3 linked regions of the Homo sapiens genome follow. The protein of the gene in region 2 purifies or fractionates together with the protein of the main gene of each other region. This does not show direct contact. Each region holds a gene or a part of one and is shown on either strand. Other genes may lie near its edges.

Region 1 (3,747 bases), on a different chromosome or scaffold from region 2:
CTGGCAGAGGGGCTCCTCACTTCCCAGTAGGGGCGGCCGGGCAGAGGCGCCCCTCACCTCCCGGACGGGGCGGCTGGCCGGGCGGGGGGCTGACCCCCCAACCTCCCTCCCGGACGGGGCGGCTGGCCGGGCGGGGGGCTGACCCCCCCACCTCCCTCCCGGACGGGGTGGCTGACCGGGCGGGGGGCTGACCCCCCCACCTCCCTCCTGGATGGGGCGGCTGGCCGGGCAGAGGGGCTCCTCACTTCCCAGTAGGGGCGGCCAGGCAGAGGCGCCCCTCACCTCCCGGATTGTCTTGTTTTTTGAGATGTCATCTCACTCTGCTACAGGGACGCCGTCTCGGGTCACTGCAACCTCTGCCTCCTAGGTTCAAGCGATTCTCCTGCCTCAGCCTCCCGAGTAGCTGGGATTACAGGCATGCGCCACCACACCCAGCTAAGTTTTGTATTTTTAGTAGAGATGGGGTTTAACCATGTTACCCAGGCTGGTCTTGAACTCCTGACCTCAAGCAATCCACCCACCTTGGTCTCCCAAAGTGCTGGCATTATAAGCATGAGCCACCGCGCCCAGCCGGTAGTGGCCTCTTTGGCTCCACAAGCCTTCTCCTTAGTTCAAGCCCAACCTAATTCCATTTCCCCACTCACTGCAGTTGCGCTCATCAGACTGGTCATCACAGTCCGCGTCACCATCGCAGCGCCAGCCTGCATTGATGCACAGGCCACTGTCACACATGAACTCCCCAGAGCGGCAGGGCTGGTGGGAGGCTAGGGAAACACAAGACTTCTGTCTCTAGCCAGTCTGTGCAGTGTCCCATGGCAGACTAGAAGGCCACAGCCCCAGAATCCCAGTTCCTCCATCTCTTCCCAAGAGGGACCAGAAAATCCAGAAACTCCTCTCTGAACTCCTGCCCCAGCTGGCGACTGTGCCTTGCCACCCAAGCAGTTCTTCCCAGCCTGGCCTCCCCACCTCCCAGCTGGCCAGAGTACTCACAGCAGTCAGACTCGTCTGACCAGTCTCCACAGTCATCGTCGCCATCGCAGTGGTAGATGTCGAGGATGCAGCGTCCATAGGCACACTGGAACTCCTCCAGGTTGCAGGGGGGCGCTGGCACTGCTGAGGCTGGAGGGAAGGCAGGGGTGGGGAGGGGCACACACTCAGGCCTGGATGAAGGAGAGGGGCCCTGATTCCTCAAGCAGGCAGGATGCTCAGGCAGGAGAGCTTCTTCAAGTGAGATGTAACCAGGTTTCATCTGGGACAGCCCTTATAGACGCCCATATTCAGGTGGACCAAAGGAAGCCTTCCCTTCCCACCTGGGGAACTTGCTCCCTCCCTAGCTCAGCCTAGGAGGAGCTGCTGCTGAGGCACCCATGCTCCTTGCCCTTGGTACATGCACTCCTCAGCCTCGCCCTTAGCCAATGGGCAGAACTGTCTGCCCTCATCCAACCCAACAGCCTGAGGTCTGGGGCCACTCACGACAGTTCTCCTCATCGGAGCCATCTTTGCAGTCGGTGTCACCGTCGCAGTACCAATGCTCAGCAATGCAGCTTCCGTCACTACAGCGGAACTCCTTGTCGGAGCACTTGCGCATGTCTGGGGGGATGCGATGGGACAGCAGTTCTGAGGGGGCCCCACAGGCAACCCTCTCACCCTCCTCTCTGACTCCCAACCTCACTGGCTTTGGCGGGTCTGACCTAGCCCCCGAAAGGCACCCCAGAGTCAGTGCAGACTCTCCAGGGAGAACGGAGGCCCTGGAGAGACTGGGCCTCAGCCTCCTGGTCCACAGTTTCTGGGGGGTCTGAGCGGCTCTGCCCCCTCTGCGTTCCTCTAGCTGCTCCAGATATCTGGGCAGTTGGAGGTTTGGCAGTGCTAGGGCCATTGCTGCTATCTTCTCCCATGGCCAGGCCACCCACTGGCCACCTTGCCTGCCTTCCCCCGTTGGGGTCACCCACCACACTGCTCATCGCTGTTGTCGCCACAGTCATTGTCACCATCGCAGTGCCACAGACTCCGGATGCAGTAGCCATTCTGGCAGGGAAACTCGTCCTCCTCACACTCCCGGGGGGCTGTGGGCACAGAGCAGTCAGGCTGCTGCAGGCAGTGGGGGTCTGGTGCCTGGAAGCCTGACTTAAAGCCCTCCGGAGCAGTCAAGTAGCTCCAGTGCTGCCCTGAGGGCTCCGAAGGAGGTGGCTGCCTCTCAGCAGCTTATCTGACTTCGAGAGGAAGTGAAAGGACAGGACAAAGTGCTGAAAACACAAGGGCTCATGTGGACCTGGGGCATTGCTTTCTGATTGAAAATCCTTTCCCAGTGGAACTCAATGGAGTTCCGCCCAGCCTCTGCCAACACTCACGACAGTCCTGCTCATCCGAGTCATCCTCACAGTCGTTGTCCCCGTCACACACCCAGGAGCGGCGGATGCACTTGCCATTGTCACAGTGAAAGTCAAGAGGGGAACAGGTAGGTAGTACTGAATCCCAGGAAAAGAAAAGAAAAGTCAATCAACCTGGTATTCTTACTCAGGCTCAACTAGGCCAGATAGCCTTTTGCTCCAAATCCCCTTGTCTTTTTTTCTTTTTTTGAGACCGAGTCTTACTCTGTCACCCAGGTTGGAGTACAGTGGCGCAATCTTGGCTCACTGCAACCTCTGCCTCCTGGTTCAGGCGATTCTGACTCAGCCTCCCAAGTAGCTGGGATTACAGGCATGCTTCACCACACCTGGCTAGGTTTTTTTGGTTTTTGTTTTTGTTTTTTGCATTTTTAGTAGAGACAGGGTTTTGTCGTGTTGGCCAGGCTGGTCTCAAACCCCCGACCTCAGGTGATCTGCCTGCCTCAGCCTCCCAAAGTGCTGGGATTACAGGCATGAGCCATGGCGCCTGGCCTTTTTTTTTTTTTTGAAACAGAGTCTGACTCTGTCACCCAGGCTGGAGTGCAGTGGTATGATCTCGGCTCACTGCAACCACCGCCTCCTGGGTTCAAGGAATTCTCATGCCTCAGCCTCCCGAGTAGCTGGTGTTACAGGTGCCCGCTGCCACACCCAGCTATCTTTTTTTTTGTGTGTATTTTTAGTAGAGGTGGGTTTTCGCCATGTTGGCCAGGCCAGTCTCGAACTCCTGGCCTCAAGAGATCCACCTGCCTTGGCCTCCCAAACTGTTGGGATTACAGGCGTGAGCCACCACACCCAGCCCCCTTGTCTGTTTTATAGTCCTTCCTTACTGACTCCTAGGCCCATCCCCAGCTGATGGAGAAGCTAAGCAGAAACTGCAGCTAAGACAGAGATTCAAAAGGTAATTGTGGTGAGGGGTTCACAGGGTAGGGGAAGAACAACCCAAAGAACTCACAGGAGCTAAGAAAACATAAGAAAAACATGAGCAAGAGAAAGAAGCGCCTTTTTCCCCTCCTTTCCTCTTGTTAAATGATGATTGACACACCCGGGCTCAATTTCCAGTTCATTACGTAACACTCTGAGCAAGTCATTTACCCTCTCTGAGCTGAAGTCTTTTTGGCTGTACAATGGGGATAATTATACTCAGTTCATAGAGGCCTTTTGATATAATGCCTATGAAAATGCTACATGAAAGTGAAGCATTTATCATCAACACAATTAGCTGAACTGGTTAGGGTTAATGAGGTCCAGGTTGTACCTCCGTTCCCATTAGACTAATTAGCCACCCTCAGACATAGATGCTACAGGTAGGTCAGAGATTGCGCCTCTAATCCAGACTATTGGCTTAGCAGGGATATTTCTATAT
Region 2 (3,747 bases):
GTAATCCCAGCACTTTGGGAGGCCGAGGCAGGTGGATCAGTTGAGGTCAGGAGTTCGAGACCAGCCTGACCAACATGGTAAAACCCTGAGTCTACTAAAAAATAATAATAATAATAAAAATTAGCCAGGCATGGCGGCACACACCTGTAATCCCAGTTAGTTGGGAAGCAGGAGGATGGCTTGAGCCCAGGAGTTCAAGGCTGCGGCGAGTTCTCATTGCGCCATTGCACTCCAGCCTGCACAGCAGAGTGAGACCTTGTCTCTAAAAAATTTTCTGGCCAGGCACGATGGCTCACGCCTGTAATCCCAGCACTTTGGGAGGCCGAGGCAGGCAGATCACTTGAGGTCAGGAGTTTGAGACCAGCCTGGCTAACATGGTGAAACCTCATCTCTACTAAAAATACAAAAATCAGTTGGACGTGGTGGCACACGCCTGTAATCCCAGCTACTCGGGAGGCTGAGGCAGGAGAATCGCTTGAACTCTGAAGGTGGAGTTTGCAGTGAGCCGAGATCATGCCATTGCACTCCAGCCTGGGCGACAGAGTGAGACTCCATCTCAAAAAAAAAAAGGCCGGGCGCGATGGCTCACACCTGTAATCCCAGCACTTTGGGAGGCCGAGGCAGGTGGATCACAAGGTCAGGAGATCGAGACTATCCTGGCTAACACGGTGAAACCCTGTCTCTACTAAAAATACAAAAAATTAGCCAGGCATGGTGATGTGTGCCTGTAATCCCAGCTACTCGGGAGGCTGAGGCGGGAGGATCACTTGAACCTTGGAGGTGGAGGTTGCAGTGAGCCGAGATCGCACCATTGCACTCCAGCCTAGGTGACAGAGCGAGACTCTATCTCAAAAAAAAAAAAAAATTCTAAAGACTATGACACAGGATAAAGAATATATGAAAACACAGAGGTTGCAGTGAGCTGAGATCACGCCACTGCACTCCAGCCTGGGCGACAGAGTGAGATGCCGTCTCAAGAAAAAAAAAAGTATATGACATACACATATATACAGTTAAATGTTATTCAGTCATAATAAAGAAGGAAATCCTGCCATTGGTGACAGCACTGATGAACCTGGGGCACATTATGCTATGTGAGACAAACCAGGCATAGAAAGATGAATACCGGATGATCTTACTTACATGAAGAATCAAAAAGAACCAGATTCCTAGAGGAAGAGAGTAGAAGAGTGATTGCCTGCGGCTGAGGGACAGGGGAAGTGGGGAGAGATGTTGGTCAAAGTGAACCAACTTTCCATTGTAAGGTGAATAAATTCTCTACATCCAGTGTCCAAATGGTGACTGTATTTAAGGATACTGTAATGTATACTTGAAATACACTGGGCCTGGTGCGGTGGTTCACGCCTGTAATCCCAGCACTTTGGGAGGCTGAGGTGGGTGGATCACGAGGCCAGGGGTTCGAGACCAGCCTGACCAACATGGTGAAACCCCATCTCTACTAAAAATACAAAAATTAGTTGGGCATGTATAGGGACCAGCCCCACAGGGTCGGTGGGTTTCTCCCCATGTGCAGAGACAAGAGAGCGTAGAAATAAAGACACAAGACAAAGAGATAAAAGACAGCTGGGCCCGGGGGACCACAACCACCAAGTCGCAGAGACCGGTAGTGGCCCCGAATGCCAGGCTGCACTGATATTTATTGGATACAAGACAAACGGGCAGGATAAGGAGTGTGAGCCATCTCCAATGATAGGTAAGGATGCATGGGTCACATGTCCACTGGACAGGGGGCCCTTCCCTGCGTGGCAGCCGAGGCAGAGAGAGAGAGGAGACAGAGAGTGAGACAGCTTATGCCATTATTTCTGCTTATCAGAGACTTTTAGTACTTTCACTAATTTGCTACTGCTATCTAGAAGGCAGAGCCAGGTGTACAGGATGGAACATGAAAGCGGACTAGGAGCGTGACCACTGAAGCACAGTATCACAGGGAGGCGGTTAGGCCTCGGGATAACTGCGGGCGGGCCTGACTGATGTCAGGCCCTCCACAAGAGGTGGAGGAGTAGAGTCTTCTCTAAACTCCCCCGGGGGAAGGGAGACTCCCCTTTCCTGGTCTGCTAAGTAGCGGGTGTTTTTCCTTGACACTTACGCTACCGCTAGACCACGGTTCACTTGGCAACAGGCGTCTTCCCAGACGCTGGCGTTACCGCTAGACCAAGGAGCCCTCTGGTGGCCCTGTCTGGGCATAACAGAAGGCTCGCACTCTTGTCTTCTGGTCACTCCTCACTATGTCCCCTCAGCTCCTATCTCTGTATGGCCTGGTTTTTCCTAGGTTATGATTATAGAGCGAGGATTATTATAATATTGGAATAAAGAGTAAGTACTACTAACTGATGATTAATTATATTCATATATAATCATATCTAAGATCTATATCTGGTATAACTATTCTTACTTGATATTTTATTATACTGGAACAGCTCATGTCCTCGGTCTCTTGCCTCGGCACCTGGGTGGCTTGCTGCCCACAGGTGTGGTGGCGGGCACCTGTAATCCCAGCTACTCAGGAGGCTGAGGCAGGAGAATTGCTTGAACCCGGGAGGTGGAGGTTGCAATGAGCCGGGATCGCGCCACTGCACTCCAGTCTGGGTGACAGAGCGAGACTCCATCTCAAAAAAAAAAAAAAAAAAGAAATATACTAAAAGGCCGGGTGTGGTGGCTCACGCCTGTAATCCCAGCATTTTGGGAGGCCAAGACAGCTGGATTACTTGAGGTCAGGAGTTCAAGTGCAGCCTGGCCAACATGGTGAAACCCCATCTCTACTAAAAATATAAAAATTATCCAGGCATGTTGGTGTGCATCTGTAATCCCAGCTACTTGGGAGACTGAGGCAGGACAATCGCTTGAACCCAGGAGGCGCAGCTTGCAGTGAGCCGAGATCGCCCTACTGCACTCCAGCCTGGGGCGACAGAGCAAGACTCCGTCTCAAAAAAAAAAAAAATGAAATGTACTAAGAGTGTAAATCTTACTTGTTCTTACCATCAGATTTTTTAAAAAGGTAACTGGTAACAGATGTGTTAATTAACTTCATGGCAGTCATTTCCCAGTGTATATGTGTATCAAATCATCACCTACACCTTAAATGTATACAACTTTTATTTGTCAAAGACAAAAAAACCTACGACACAGGAAGTGATTACAGACAGAGGGGAAGAGGTCTGAGGACTGAGTCTTAAATAGATATTGGCAGACTGCAGGATCTTGTGTGAGTGTCCTATGAACTGAGTTCAGTTCCGCAGTGCTGTGAGTTTTACCCCATCCTCATGTACACATATGTGGTTTGTTTTAGGACACAGTGGTCTTTGAAGACGTGGTTGTGGATTTCACGCTGGAGGAGTGGGCCTTGCTGAATCCTGCTCAGAGAAAACTCTACAGAGATGTCATGCTGGAGACCTTCAAGCACCTGGCCTCAGTAGGTGAGGATAGCATTATTTCTGCACTTAGTTATTAGATAATAAATGTTTTGTCTGGTTGCAGTGGTTCATGCCTGTATTCCCAGTGCTTTAGGAGGCTAAGGCAGGAGGATCACTTGAGGCTAGGAGTTGACAACCAGCCTGGGCAACATAGTGAGACCTTGTCTCTACAAAAAAAAAATCAAAAATTAGCCCGGTGTGGTAGCATGCTCCTGTAGTCCTAGCTACTTGAGAGGCTGAGGCAGGAGAATCGCTTGAGACCAGGAGTTCAAGGCTACAGTGACCCATGATCACACCACTGTACTCCAGCCAGGGT
Region 3 (3,747 bases), on a different chromosome or scaffold from region 2:
CTCTACAAAAAATTTTGAAAATTAGCCAGATATGGTGGCCCATGCCTGTAGCCCCAGTTACATGAGAGGCTGAGGTGGAAGGATTGCTTGAGCCCAGGAGGTCAAGGCTGTAGTGACCCATGATGGTGCCATTGCATTCCAGTCTGGATAACACAGCAAGACCCTGTCTCAAAAACAGTTTAGGGGGCAATGATAAATAGCATGTGCTGATTAGAAAAACTTCTCCATAACTAGGAAAATACGTAAAGAGGAAAGTAAGTTCCCCATGGTCCCATCAACCAGTCCTTTGGGTTCTTTTTTGAGACAGGGTTTCACTGTAGCCCAGGCTGGAGTGCAGTGGCACGATCATAGCTCACTGAAGGCTCCAGTTCCTGAGCTCAAGCGATCCTCCTGTCTCAGCCTCCCAAGTAGCTGAGATTACAGACATGTGCCACCGTGACTGGTCAAGTCAGTCTTTTTATGTAAAGGGGCAAAACTGGAGTGAAATTGCCTGGTATACATGCCCCTTTTTCTGCTTGGTTTTAGAGGCAGGTAGAGTTAGGTAATTTCATATTATTGTTGTTAATTTTTACCTCAAGGCCTTTTTCCTTCCTGCTCAGCCAGGTCTCTTTTTCGCCGGGGTTGACTGACCAGAGGAGGCCCGCTAAGCGCCTGTGGTTAAAGGTCACAGGGACATAAAGACACGTGGTCGATGGGTGTCTGTGTGAGGTCATTAGCTACCTCCTGCTAAAAGGAACACTCATGGTATAGTTTTCTCTGGTCAGGCATCTGTAAATACAGCTGACCATTTGCTACGTTTTCCCCTTGGAAAAGAAATGGAGAGGGCCCAGGCTTGACCTGGCTGCCAGCCCTCGCCCCACCAGGCACTTGCTTGGGCCACTGACTGACCCTCAGAGCATCTTTTCCACCCACACACCACAGATAGAGCCATGCCAGGTCGCAGGGGCAAGTAGGTGAGGTCATGACTGGGAAGTCACCTGCCTCCATCCTGGGCCTCGGCCTCTGAGGAGGTTTCACTTTGGAGTTCCCTGGGCTTATGGGCCCCATTCTGTACACAGAGCAGGCTCCTCCCCGTGGCTATGTCACCTTCAACAGCAGTGGCGAGAACCCCCTGGAAGAAGAGGGCCTCTGCTGCCGGGATGTCACCTCCCCCATCAATGAGCGGGATGTGGAGAGCAGCAGCAGCAGCAGCAGTCGGGGTACGTGCACCCCCACCCATCCGGCCCGTGGCTCAGGCAGGTCCTGGAGCTCCTGTGTGCCCATCCCCACTTATCCCCTGGGCCTGGCGCTGGACACAGCCATCCAGCAGAGGACAGGAAAGGGGTAGGTGTGGACGGCCCTGGTTCTTGTGAGGAATGGGAGAAGCTTCTGGTCCAGCATCCCCGTGCGGCTTAAGGGAGCCGTTCCACAGCAACAGGTTTAGCTCCTTGCTTGGGAGCCCCTGAGGCTTTCAGGGCAGGCCCCAGTAGGAATGTCTGTTATAACTGCACCTCCGTGCAGCAGCTGTTTCCATAGTGCCCACCGTGTGCCAAGCACTGCTCCGGGTGCTTGGGATTTATCAGTGAACAAAAAAGACAGAAGCCCTGCCCGTCTGTATAGAGGGGAGGGTTTAGGACAGGCAGGAAGTTTGAAATATAAGGAAGCAACCGCTGCAGGCCCCAAGGAGTGCCCTGGTGGAGGCGGCTCAGCCCGGGGCACGCCCATGCGCAGCACCTCGGTGAGGGCTGCAGGCGGACGCCCTGTCTTCCCGCCCTCAGAGGAACATGCTTTCTGTGCCAACCTGGGGCCCGTCCAGAGCAGCAGCAGCAGCGAGGGCCTGGCCAGAGCCCAGGGGCTCAGCAGCGAAGCTTCTGTGGAGAGCAACGAGGTACGGATTCTTTCTTTCTTGGTCTCCCATAGCCGGTCCCTGGCTGGGATGCCTGACATCCCCCAGTTACTTTAAGATGAGCATGTATGTAAGAAGCAGCTGCTGCACGTGTGTGCTGCACTGGGACGTGCTGTGTCCAGGGTCTGGCTTCTCAGACGACAGCGAACGCACCGGAAGCCCCTGTGTGGCGGGTGGGGGGTTTCACGAAGCCTCTCAAGCCCCTGTGTGGCGGGTGGGGGTTTCACCAAGGCTCTCAAGTTAGCCCGCGCACTCTTTCAGATGCACGCCTCTCACTGCAGGACTCGGATCATGCCTGTAAAAGCTCAGCTCGCAAACAAGCTAAAAGTTACATGAAGACCAAGAATCCTGACAGCCAGTGGCCTCCCCGCGCTGCAACTGACAGGGAAGGCTTTCTCGCTGAGTCCAGCCCCCAGACTCAGAGGGCCCCCTACTCAGGACCCCAGGTAAGACCGCTTGTGAAACTGGAGGTTACACTCAGAGACGGCACTTTTTGTGACTTAGGAGGCATGTGTTGTGTATATGACGTGCCAGGCGCTGCTAGGAGAACAGAATGGCGGTGGCATCCCCATGGCCTGTTAGGCTCCACAGGCTCACAGCCGGCTCCATGGCTGGCAGCCCCGCTGCAGCGCTTCTACTCTGTTCCTCTCCACGGAAAGGACCTGTCTCCCTGCTTTCCATACTGGAGTTGGCCTCCCTGAGCCTGGGGAGAAGAAAAGCACACTTGACCTCAGAGCTGCCTGCAGGAGTCTGACAAGATGTGGTTGAAGCAGAGACAGGAACTACACACAGTGTGTGCTTGGTGATGGTTACAGCTGCCACCATCCTCCTCCTTTCTGTGGTCCCTCTGACCACACATTACCTTAGGGATCAGAGGTGTGACTCACAGCTCAGCTGTCTCACCTGTGTCTGCTGAGTTCTCCTACCCTGTGTGGGCAGAAGAGGCACGGAGAGGAGAGGCAGAGGGAAGCTCTGGTTGGTTATTTGGTTTGTTTGTTCGAGACGGAGTCTCGCACTGTCATCTGGGCTGGAGTGCAGTGGCGCGATCTCGGCTCACTGCAACCTCCTCCTCCTGGGTTCAAGCGATTCTCCTGCCTCAGCCTCCCAAGTAGCTGGGATTACAGGCACCCGCCACCATGCCCATCTAATTTTTTGTATTTTTAGTAGAGACGGGATTTCACTATGTTGGCCAGGCTGGTCTCAAATTCCTGACATCGTGATCCGCCCGCCTCGACCTCCCAAAGTGCTGGGATTACAGGCGTGAGCCACCACACCTGGCCTGGTGCCATGCCCGGCCTGGCTGGTTATTTGTTAAAGCACTGGCTTTGCTGTTCAGTAGAGCCTTGGATTTGCCGGCTTCTCCCTGCAGCCCCTGGCTCAGTGAGCAGGCACACGTCTCGGTCCCTTCAACATACGTTGAGTGGAGTCTGGTCAGGGTAGTGTCCTAAGTATGTTTCTTTCAGAAAATAGCTTGAAGAAAATGTCAGAGTAACATTTGTTTGTCCATTAAAAGCAATAAACTCTCAAAAGTAGGATTTCTGGAGTTGAAAAGTAAATGAAATGAAAATATCACTAGACGAGCTCACAGCAGAATTGAGCAGGCAGAAGAGTCAGACAACTTGTGAACACAGGTCACCTGAGATCATCTCGCTTGAGGAACAGAAAGAATGAGTAAAAAAAATTAACAGAAATCTGTGATCCCCTCAAGCACACCGACACCACCCCATACAGTGGCATTCCAGAAGGAGAGCAGAAACGATGGGTGAGAAACAGCCTGACCATCTCAGTGGATCAGAAACACGGATCTTACATCCAGGGAGCTCGGTGAACTCCAGACAGGTGAACTCGGAGAAGAGCTGCGC

Evidence for each region.
Region 1: the proteins of ZNF556 (region 2) and LRP4 purify together in Homo sapiens (affinity purification with mass spectrometry; 2 studies listed by BioGRID and IntAct, with this or other methods). This does not show direct contact.
Region 3: the proteins of ZNF556 (region 2) and ANKS3 purify together in Homo sapiens (affinity purification with mass spectrometry; 2 studies listed by BioGRID and IntAct, with this or other methods). This does not show direct contact.

The regions. Positions count from the first base shown.
Region 1 is NC_000011.10:46,897,914-46,901,660, forward strand, and holds part of LRP4 (low-density lipoprotein receptor-related protein 4 precursor), read right to left. Parts: intron 2,466-3,747; coding exon 2,349-2,465; intron 2,064-2,348; coding exon 1,950-2,063; intron 1,591-1,949; coding exon 1,474-1,590; intron 1,120-1,473; coding exon 991-1,119; intron 765-990; coding exon 645-764; intron 392-644; exon of another isoform or gene 283-391; intron 1-282. UniProt on the Homo sapiens protein: Mediates SOST-dependent inhibition of bone formation. Functions as a specific facilitator of SOST-mediated inhibition of Wnt signaling.
Region 2 is NC_000019.10:2,870,189-2,873,935, forward strand, and holds part of ZNF556 (zinc finger protein 556), read left to right. Parts: intron 1-3,307; coding exon 3,308-3,434; intron 3,435-3,747. UniProt on the Homo sapiens protein: May be involved in transcriptional regulation.
Region 3 is NC_000016.10:4,699,554-4,703,300, reverse strand, and holds part of ANKS3 (ankyrin repeat and SAM domain-containing protein 3), read left to right. Parts: intron 1-1,058; coding exon 1,059-1,199; intron 1,200-1,757; coding exon 1,758-1,867; intron 1,868-2,166; coding exon 2,167-2,331; intron 2,332-3,747. UniProt on the Homo sapiens protein: May be involved in vasopressin signaling in the kidney.